Regions from separate parts of the Homo sapiens genome. Here regions 2 and 3 are each reported to be linked to region 1. Evidence: microRNA targets listed by miRTarBase, many of them from high-throughput screens and not tested one by one. Region 1 holds a microRNA gene; each other region holds the end of a gene's coding sequence. Distances are from middle to middle.

Region 1 (3,159 bases):
AACAGGAATGCTCGACATCAACAGAGAACAATGGTGGCCAGTGTTAGAATTGAGGCCAACCTCAGACACATGGCCACAGAAGACAAAGTGACACAGCTTTGTCCTTCACTAAACCACTCACCTAGCTGTCTGCCCCTTGTCTCCTAGAAGAGAGTCCTTTGACATCTCCATTAGCCTGATGGCTTCATTCACATCTTCTTTCTCCACCACATCCACCATTCTCAGACGTGCCTAAGGGGAAGGTAGGGGGGAAAGATGGGAACGGGAGGAGGGCAGTGGAACGAGGTCAGGGGACACCCTTGTTCTGGCTTTAAGGCTGGGCAGCCCATGGGTCGCCTACTCACAAAACAGGAGTGGAATCCCCCCTCCCCCCAGCATCCGCAGTGTTGGGCCGGCACTGTCAGACCGAGACAAGTGCAATGCCCAGGGCAGCGTCCAGCAATTGCCCAAGTCTCCGCCTCTCAACACTGGCCAGTCCCGGAGTTCAGCTGTCCTGTGAGGGAGACCAGACCCTTTTGAACGCCACTGGGCTCCCCAGCATGACAGATGGAGCTTGGGGAGCTCAGCCAAGAAGACAATTGGCAGAGAGAACGTGTCCCGGGGGCTCGGGAAGTGCTAGCTCAGCAGTAGGTTGGGTAATCACACTACCTGCACGAACAGCACTTTGGAGCCCCCAGGACTGAGGTCCAAGACGGGAGGACAGAAAGGAAGGTCTGTAGCACAGGATCTAGGACACATGGAGTGAAACAGACCCCAACCACCCTCTCAGTGAAGGTTAAGAAGTGGGGAAAAGGCCTTTCCCTCCACGGACGCTGTGCGTGCCCTGCTGGAGCAGCAAGTACCCACAGTGCGGTAGCACGGAGAGGACCACTATCTGCACTGTCAGCACTTTAGCCCCGGCAGGGCTGGAGCGGGAGGTGGGGAGGCGGCAATGAGAGCACGGTAAGGAGCTACCCCTTTAAGGGTCAAAACAGATGGCCCTCCAGCAATTTGGGCACTTACCAGAGCAGTGGAAAGGCGCAGGATAGCCAGCAGGGTCCGGGCAGAAGTATAGGTGGCATCCTTACTAGCCCAAGCCTCTCGCCTCATCTCCACGTATGCTGCTGTGATGTAGTCAGCCAGAGACTCTGGCACCATGGGCTGCTTCTCGCGGCACATGGCTATGTAACGCCTGTGGGGGAAGGTTCATGGGGAAGCAGAAGAGGGAGATGGGGAAGGGAGTGAATATGAGCCCATGTTGTTTTCTGTACCAGGGCTCCCCATTTAACATGGTCCCCTCCAAGAATTTTAAGTGGAAAACACAAATTAGTGGGTGATTATTTGCTTGGCTTGAATATCACTGATGGATTTCACCAAACGTATAGCCCCCACCAGTATCCTCCAAGTTATTTCCTATTTTTTTCGGGAAAATGGCCTTTGTAAGACAAATCCGTCTGTCATTAAGAGAGGATCCAGACCCCTCCTCTGAGCGCATGACATGGCAAAACATATATTTTATTTAAAGAGAACTGTTTACAGAATATTTAAAAGGGAGTAAAAACCGGAAAGAACACTGGAGGCTCATGGGAAAATAGCGATAGAGATTATCATCCAGAATGCCTGGGAGCAGGTGTTTTAAACTTTAAATTTTGGAGTATTTGCATATGCATGAGATAGCTTGGGGATGGGACTCCAGTCTAAACATGAAATTCACCTGTATTTCATATACAACTGATACACATAACCTGAAGGTAATTTTATTAAAAATATTTTTGTGGGCCAGGAGCAGTGGTTCATGCCTGTAATCCCAGCACTTTGGGAGGCAGAGGTGGGCATCCTGGCCAACATGGTGAAACTGCTCTCTACTAAAATACAAAAAATTAACCAGGCGTGGTGGCGTGCGCCTGTAATCCCAGCTACTCAGGAGGCTGAGGCAGGAGAATCGCTTGAATCTGGGAGGCAGAGGTTGCAGAGAGCTGAGATCACTACACTCCAGCCTGGGTGACAGAGCAAGACTTCGTCTCAAAAAAAATAAATAGTGTAGGAAACAAAATTTCCTGTGTCCCTATGATATGAAGTGTGGAATTTTCCACTTAAAAGCTGATCTGAGGCTCTGGACATGTCTGTAGCGGGAAGTGGTGGTGTGAAAAACACACACCCTAAGACTAATAAGCACTTTTTCAGGAGGCTCGCACGGCCCACGCCAACGTTTGCCCACCCGCACCCAGCTCTCCTACCTCATGAGCTTCATGTCCAGAGGTTCAAACTGGGAGGGGGGCTGCCGGCTGTGCTGGTGCACATAGGTGATGTGCTGGGCCAACCTGGACAGAGGGAAGGTTAGAAGGAACACCCTTTTTAGGGCTACGCACCCATGTCCTCTTAGGTGTCCCTCCTTTGGCTCTGCCACTTCCTCACAGTGTAGGAGGGACAAGCTTTCCCGGGAAATCCTCATCAGCATTTCAGCCCCAACCCACCATTTCCCTGAGAACCATGGACCAGCCCCTGCTGCAAAGGGGAGGCTCTGGGGTTTCCAGGAGCGTGGAATTTGTTTTCTGATTCACCTCTCCTCCTCCCTACACAGATCATTACAGGGGACCTCTCTTTGGGTGTTGAGCTTCATTCACCGTAGGTCATTGTCTCGGTCGGGCCGGTCCTGAATCAGCCAGAGGAGGTCAAACCGGGAGAGCAGTGCAGCAGGTAGCTGTATGTTCTGCTCCAGGCTGCGGCGAGGGTTGTAGCGCCCGTAGGCAGGGTTGGCGGCAGCCAGGATGGAGCAGCGGGCATTGAGTGTGGTGAGAATGCCGGCCTTGGCAATGGAGATGGTCTGCTGCTCCATGACCTCGTGGATGGCTGTGCGGTCGGCCTCAGCCATCTTGTCGAACTCATCAATGCAGCACACACCCTGGTCAGCCAGCACCAGGGCCCCACCCTCTAAGGTCAGTTCTCCACTCACGGAGTCTCTCAGCACAGCTGCCGTAAGCCCCACTCCTGAGGAGCCCCGGCCTGTTGTGTACTGGCCTGGAAGAGAAGAAATAAGGAACCATGAGAGAGAAAGAACAAGAAAGAGAACAAGCAAAAGACAACAAACGGGCCAGGGAGGCGAGGCCTGCGCTGGGATCATTCCACTCCCTCCACCAGGCCTTCTTGAGATGCCCGAGGATCTGTGGGGCACTGGCAATG
Region 2 (3,163 bases), not on the chromosome of region 1:
GGCAAAGTGCCCTTGATAACATGATAACTTCTTTTGTGTTACTCATTTTGAAAATGATTGATTCTAATAATACCTATAATCTGTTACCTAAGATAGAGACTTGTGTATAATTACTAATAGCTTAGACTTCTTTAGCACGCTGCCTATGTCTTTGTTTCTCTACTTGTTTCTTTGAATTAGGAGACACCCTCAAACACCGATTTTGAGTTTTTATTGTTATTATTTTTGCCATTAATTTAATTTTGCTTAATAATGCAAATGGGAGATTATAGAAAAAATGATCAAATCAAATGACTATATGGCCTTATAGCTTACATTTAACTCCAAGGCAAAATAATCTAAACTAAACCTGGAATAGAATTGAATTATTAAGTCCTATGTAAATTGAAATTTTTTCTTTCTCTTTTAGATAAGGAGATAGCATGGCAAGCATTGCATCTAGTAAATGGATACAAACTACATGGGAAAATATTGGTGATAGAGTTTGGAAAGAACAAAAAGCAACGGTCAAATCTCCAAGCGACTTCTCTCATATCATGTGCTACAGGTAGCACTACAGAAATTAGTGGTAGCTAGAATATATATAAATTGTGGGTCCTGGATGGTCTTTCTTGAATTGGAATCTTGGATCTAGGATTTATGTATAGACACCAGTTTGTTTGGAGTTGAAGAGGAAAAACTAACTGAGGGAGGGGAAAAAAGTAATTTCAGCTTTTGGAGAGAACTGGTAGAAAACATTTTCTATTATATAATTGAAGACTATATAGGACAGATGATATGCTGAGTATGAAGGGTAAAGTGCAAAGAGTATTATTTTCTCAGGATGAATTACAACGGATTATTCCTAAGGATTTTTAAAAATCTTTATAATTTTTCTGGGGTCCTCAATATTTGTCTCTAGAGATAACATTCTTTCTTAGACTGCTTCGTATACACAGAAATAAAAAACTAATTAAATGTTGAAATATTTCTTTACTAGAGCCCATTTGCCATATTTCATCCACCTAGTAAATAAAAGAGTAGGACCCCCAGGCCTAAGCATCAACAAATGCTATTAAGTCAGAACTATCAGCAGTAATAGTAGGTAGTTTCATAAGTCAGTTGACTTATTTAATGAATGCTTCCTCCACAAGTTATCAGTCTTCAAAAAGCTATATATTTTTCTAGTGAAATATTTTAGATCAAAATGTTGGTGTTCTCACAGCCATTTAAGCTAGCAACCATTGAGTATCATTGAATTCATAGCAATAAACATTGATTAAGTGTCTAATATATGTTAAATATTAGGCATATGAATTTTAGAAGAGGAACATACAAGCAAAGAATGCCAAACGGAAATGGAAATAAAGCGTTCTCTAGAAAAGAGGATGCCAGTCACAAATCCCCCAGTTGTTTGTTTATGGTTGCTGGAAAATAAAAAAACAATATACAGAGAGGAAGTAGTACAAACTGGAGTCAGACCTGTACAGCCACACTTAACATTCTATGACCTTGGCAAGTCACTTAATCTGAGCCTCACATTTTTCATCTATAAAGTGAGGATAATAATGCTACTTACCTCACTGGGTTGTGAAGATGAACTGAGATATTATCCAGGCTGAAGAACAGAAAGGAAAACAATGAATAAAATTGAACAAGAGTATAGAACCTGTGTGACACCATTAAGCATTCCTACATATTTCTAATGGGAGTACAGGAAAAAAGGAAAAGAAATGAAGGAGCAGAAAAATATTCTAAGAAATAATGGCTATAAATACCCCCGATTTGATGAGAGACATTAACCTATACATCCCAGAAGAAAAAGAAATTACAGACAGATACATCATAAGAAAAATGCTAAAACCCAAAAACGAAAAGAAAATCTTAACAGCAATACGAGAAAAATGAGCCATCACTTACCAAGGAACCCAAATAAAATTAGTAGTTGACTTCCCCTCAGAAACAATGGCAGTGGCAGTGGAATAACACATTCAAAGTGTTCAAAGAAAATAACTGTCAACCAATAATCCTATATACAATAAAACTATTTTTCAAAAATGAACGTGAAATAAAACATCTCACATAATCAAAAACCAAGAGAATTTGTTGCTGGCAGACCTGACTTGCTGGAAATACAAAAGGAAGTTCTTCAGCCTGAAAGCAAGTGACCACAGACAGTAATCTGAATCTACACACATGCAGAAAAAGAGCACAGGCAAAAATAATTATGTAATTATCAGAAACAATCTATGCATTTTTCTTTTTTCTCTTAACTAATGTAAAACACAGTTGTATAAAACAATATGTATATAGTTGCATCGTTTGGCCTATAACGTATAAAATATAATATATTTGCCGATAACAGGTTGAAGAAGCTGAGTGGAAGCAAAACTGTCTTGTACTAAAGAACTGACTCCAGATGGTAAGACAAATCCACAGGAACAAATGGAGAGAACGTGAAATAGGAAATAAGTTTAATATAAAAAAACTATAAACATATACTTACTCTTCTCTCAGCTTCTTTTAAAGATGTAAAATTATATTAAGTAATTATAATAATGTGTGTTGGGTTTGTAATGTATAGGAATAACATATATAACAATAATACCACAAAGCGGGGGATGGGTTTATATAGGAATAGGGTTGTTACATTGGAATTAAGTTAGTGTTTATCTGAAGCCTATTCTGTTTAGTTAAGATGTGTATGGTAAGCCCTAGAGCAACCACTGAGGAAATAACTTTTAAAAAATCAAAAATATTATTAAATGTAAATATCACATTATGAAATAATGCAAAAGAAGGAATGGAGAAGCAAAAAGCTTGAGGCATATCAAAAACAATAAAATGGCAGTCATAAGTCTTCCTATATCAAAATAACAATGTGCATGGATTAAGCAATACTATAAAAGGCAGAGATGTCAGAAACAAGTCTGATTCCACTTCATGCCATCTATTTGAGACACACTTTAGAAGATAGAAAGAGATTAAAGGTAAAAGGATGGAAAACAAATATATCACACAGACAACAGCCATAAGAAAGCTGGAGTGGCTATTCTAATACCAGACAAAATAGACTTAAAAAAATGTTACTGGAGATAAAGAGTAAAATGTTACAATGATAAAAGGGTCAATACATCAGGAAGATGTAACAACTATAAATATATATGCATCTAACAGTAGAGCC
Region 3 (3,163 bases), 470 kb from region 1:
GAGGTGGCCCCTGTGCCCCTTCCTCGTGAAGGTCTGCGTTGTCCAAGCCAGGGCTGAGCTTGGGCCTCAGCTCTTCTGGGCACTGGCATCTCCCATGCTGTTCCAGCCCTGCCCTTGGCTCCCTTCTCCCTCACTTTCCTTTTTTTTTTTTTTTTGAGACAGCCTCACTCTGTCTCCCAGGCCCAATCTCAGCTCACCGCAACCTCTACCTCCTGAGTTCAAGCAATTCTCCTGCCTCAGCCTCCCAAGTAGCAGGGACTACAGGTGTGCACCACCGCACATGGCTAATTTTTGTATTTTTAGTAGAGATAGGGTTTTCCCGTGTTGGCCAGGCTGGTCTTGAACTCCTGACCTCAGGTGATCAGCCCACCTTGGCCTGCCAAAGGGCTGGGATTACAGGCATGAGCTACCGTGCCTGGCCTTTTCTCCCTCACTTTCCCACTGCCCTCAGCATAGCGATTTTTCAGGAGAAAGGACTCCTGGCTGCCTTTCTTCTAAGCTTCCAGTTCCTCTCCCCTAACTGGAAAATGTATTGTTCTTTCTTTCCAGACTGGACCCTCATCAAGCCCATTCGCCTCCAAACCTCCAACCACCAACCCCTTCTTGTAGCACTGTGTTTTTGGGGGGCCTCTTCCCTGCCTTCTGGGGCCCCTCTGCTCCCTAGAGCTCTGGTGACCACTTGCCTGTGGGCATTTCTATGGGCCTTGGGGATGGTGGAGGTGCTAATGCTTTGCTTGGGGCCTACAGGTGAAAGGTGGCTGCCCTCAGATTCCACAAAGCCTCTCTCCCCTCCCTCGTCCCACCCCCACCCAGGCAGGAAGCCCAGGAGGAGTGCGGGCAGGGCCTGACCTGGAGGAGTGATGGTTGAGGGGGAGGGATTTTTTTCAAATGATCAGTCCCCTGTGGAACAGCTCTTCCCTGGGCCTAGCTCGCCAGCGCTGTGCTCCTCATGGACGGGAGCGCAGTGGGGAAGGTAGGGGAAAGATGAGGCACAGTGTTGATGGGGCAGTGACCAGACAGTCCTGAGACCCAGAAGGCCCAGGTGGCCCAAGTGCTCTTGGTGGCCCAGCTTGGCCAGCACACACTTTCCTCCTGCAGCACCCCCTGCTGAAGGGGTCCCCCATTGTTTTGCTTCCCCAGCGCCCAGGATGAGCGGTTTACCATCGAGCTTACCCGGGCCCGGCTCCTGTCAAGCACTTTAGTTAGCTGTTGGTGTCATGTTTGGATACCAGTGTTTTATATTTATACATAGAGAGGATTTTCTAATATAGCCTATTATATATAAATAGATCTATCTATATGCACATACATACATATATACACACACCCAGCCGATCTCCCGCTCCCAGACTGCTCTCGTATGTGGGGAATGGGATGAATCCCCATCTGTGCCTCGACCATCAAAGCCGGAGCTCCAGGGCTGGAGGGGGGGCAGCCATGTGTCCTGACCCCCACCATCCCCAGAGCCTGGGTTTTCCAGGGAAAGGCTTTGTGCAATTGCCTGGTCTTTTTTTTTTTTTTTTTTTCTCCATGTGCCTCCCTGTCCCCAAATCTCTGCACCAAAGCTCATTGCAGGCAATGTTGGAAAAGAACTGCATTTGAACGAAAGAGAAAACGGCGCCTGTGGTTTTGCTTCAGGCCACTTTGAGGGGTTGCAGGTCAGTCAACATGACTGATCCTTGACCTGGCTCTGCTGGGCTGGACTGCCTGGGCCAGTGATAATGCTGCCATTGGCCAGAGACAGGGCAGAGCCCGTCCCTGTCTGAACAAGAGTCCCGCATTAGCAATGAGAAGAAGCGTGGCGGGAGAGGAGCCACCACTGCCGGGGACTGGAGTTTGTTGGATGTGAGGGGAATGCCCACTGGGGCCAGGGTGGGCAAAGGAGGTTGGTGCCAATGTGGTGCTGGAAGTAGACCCCTCCTGGGTCTGGAACATTCTCTGCCCCAGGCTCTTTCCACCTGGGGATGTTGTGACAACATCCAGCTGTGGTGTCTGGGCTATTTGTGTGGTGACAAGACAGACCTGGTCAGGGGGTGGGTGGCAAACACCTCACCTGGCTGGGCAGAGGCCACCTTGCTGTTTGGCCCAAGGCCAGGTGAGGCCCCTCCCTTTCCACCATTGCCCTGGCCCCGTGGCCATTCATTCTTGGGGTTTGTCTGAGTCTTCCACAGAGAGCAGCAAAGAGATATGGGAGTTGGGTGATCAGTGTATTTACTTTGCAGATTTTTCTGGAAATAACCTCTAGCTGCTGCTATTTGCAAGGCTGGGATTGGCCTCCCTGTCTTTTCCAACAATCAGGACCCCATCCTGTCTGTTCCTGTTCTTCTCCCAGCCTCTGCCCTCCTTCTGTCTCCTGGGTGGTCTCCCGCTTCGCTCCTGGCCTTTGCATGTTCCATCTCTTCTCTTTCTCCCCTCTTCGCCACCCTAGATTATCTCTGTGTCCCTCTACCTAATTCTCTTACCAGTTCTTTCCTTTCTGCTTAGAGCCGGAGGGAGGGAAGCTGGAATCTGTTATGGTGTATTAGGGGGAGGAGCCTTTCTGTTATTTCCCCCCAGCTTCCATCACCCTTCCCTTAATGCCAGGAGCGCCGAGGTTTGGAACTGAGGCTAAACCGAAGGGCTTTCTCCTGCTTCTGTCACCCTGTGCTGTCTCCCGGCATCTCCTCACTATCTGGGTCCAGGCCCGGGTCCTCCCTGCAGACTCCCTCCCCTCCAGCCCACAAGGACTCCAGCCTGCTGGCTGGTGAGAGCTGGATGAGCAGTAAGAAGTTAACGCCAGGTCAGCCTCGGGCCCCAGGGTTCCCTGGGCACAGGCTGACACTAGGAGCTGCTCTCCTTGGCCGGGGACAGCTCCAGCAGCTCAGGCTCCAGCCCTCCAGTGAGCCGCCTCTCCTGGAGAGTAGCAAAGAATGGAGAAAGGCCTGGCTTGAGAGGAAATGGAGAAAACATTGCCTGGTAGCTGCAGATTCAAACCCACCACACACACCACGGGGCTAGAGTGACTCACCTGGGCTCACACCAACTTCTGGCCAATGCAGGGACCATGCTCTGCAGACAGCAGTCCTCTAGCATGGCCCCAGCATTCAGCCAGTCGGTCACCTGTGGGCCATCCCCATGTGTGAGGAAGCAGGAGTCAGCCACCAAGTGTCTCCACATCGGAGCT

Evidence for each region. The annotated mature microRNA hsa-miR-106b-5p reads UAAAGUGCUGACAGUGCAGAU and lies in region 1 at 873-893, opposite strand. An mRNA with a match to its seed (bases 2 to 7 or 8) in the 3' UTR can be bound and repressed. Matches are read on the target gene's strand: a 7mer-m8 pairs with bases 2 to 8, a 7mer-A1 pairs with bases 2 to 7 and ends in A, and an 8mer does both.
Region 2: miRTarBase lists RBM41 as a target of hsa-miR-106b-5p. Seed matches in the 3' UTR shown: 7mer-A1 at 2,942-2,948.
Region 3: miRTarBase lists AGFG2 as a target of hsa-miR-106b-5p. Seed matches in the 3' UTR shown: 8mer at 1,194-1,201.

Annotation. Positions count from the first base shown.
Region 1 is chr7:100,093,171-100,096,329 of GRCh38, forward strand. It overlaps MIR106B (microRNA 106b), which reads right to left and starts at 904; the gene lies at 823-904. MCM7 (minichromosome maintenance complex component 7) reads right to left here. Exons shown (of 15, transcript NM_005916.5): 11 at 2,604-2,997; 12 at 2,217-2,300; 13 at 1,003-1,171; 14 at 122-231. It overlaps MIR25 (microRNA 25), which reads right to left and starts at 473; the gene lies at 390-473. It overlaps MIR93 (microRNA 93), which reads right to left and starts at 677; the gene lies at 598-677. RefSeq lists an enhancer at 2,331-2,831.
Region 2 is chrX:107,064,940-107,068,102 of GRCh38, reverse strand. RBM41 (RNA binding motif protein 41) reads left to right here. Exons shown (of 8, transcript NM_001324242.2): 8 at 410-3,163. The coding sequence ends at 576. Among named protein-coding and RNA genes, the nearest start is that of RBM41, 52 kb to the left of the region's middle.
Region 3 is chr7:100,564,383-100,567,545 of GRCh38, forward strand. It overlaps AGFG2 (ArfGAP with FG repeats 2), which reads left to right. Exons shown (of 12, transcript NM_006076.5): 12 at 550-3,163. The coding sequence ends at 609. Among named protein-coding and RNA genes, the nearest start is that of SAP25, 7.9 kb to the right of the region's middle.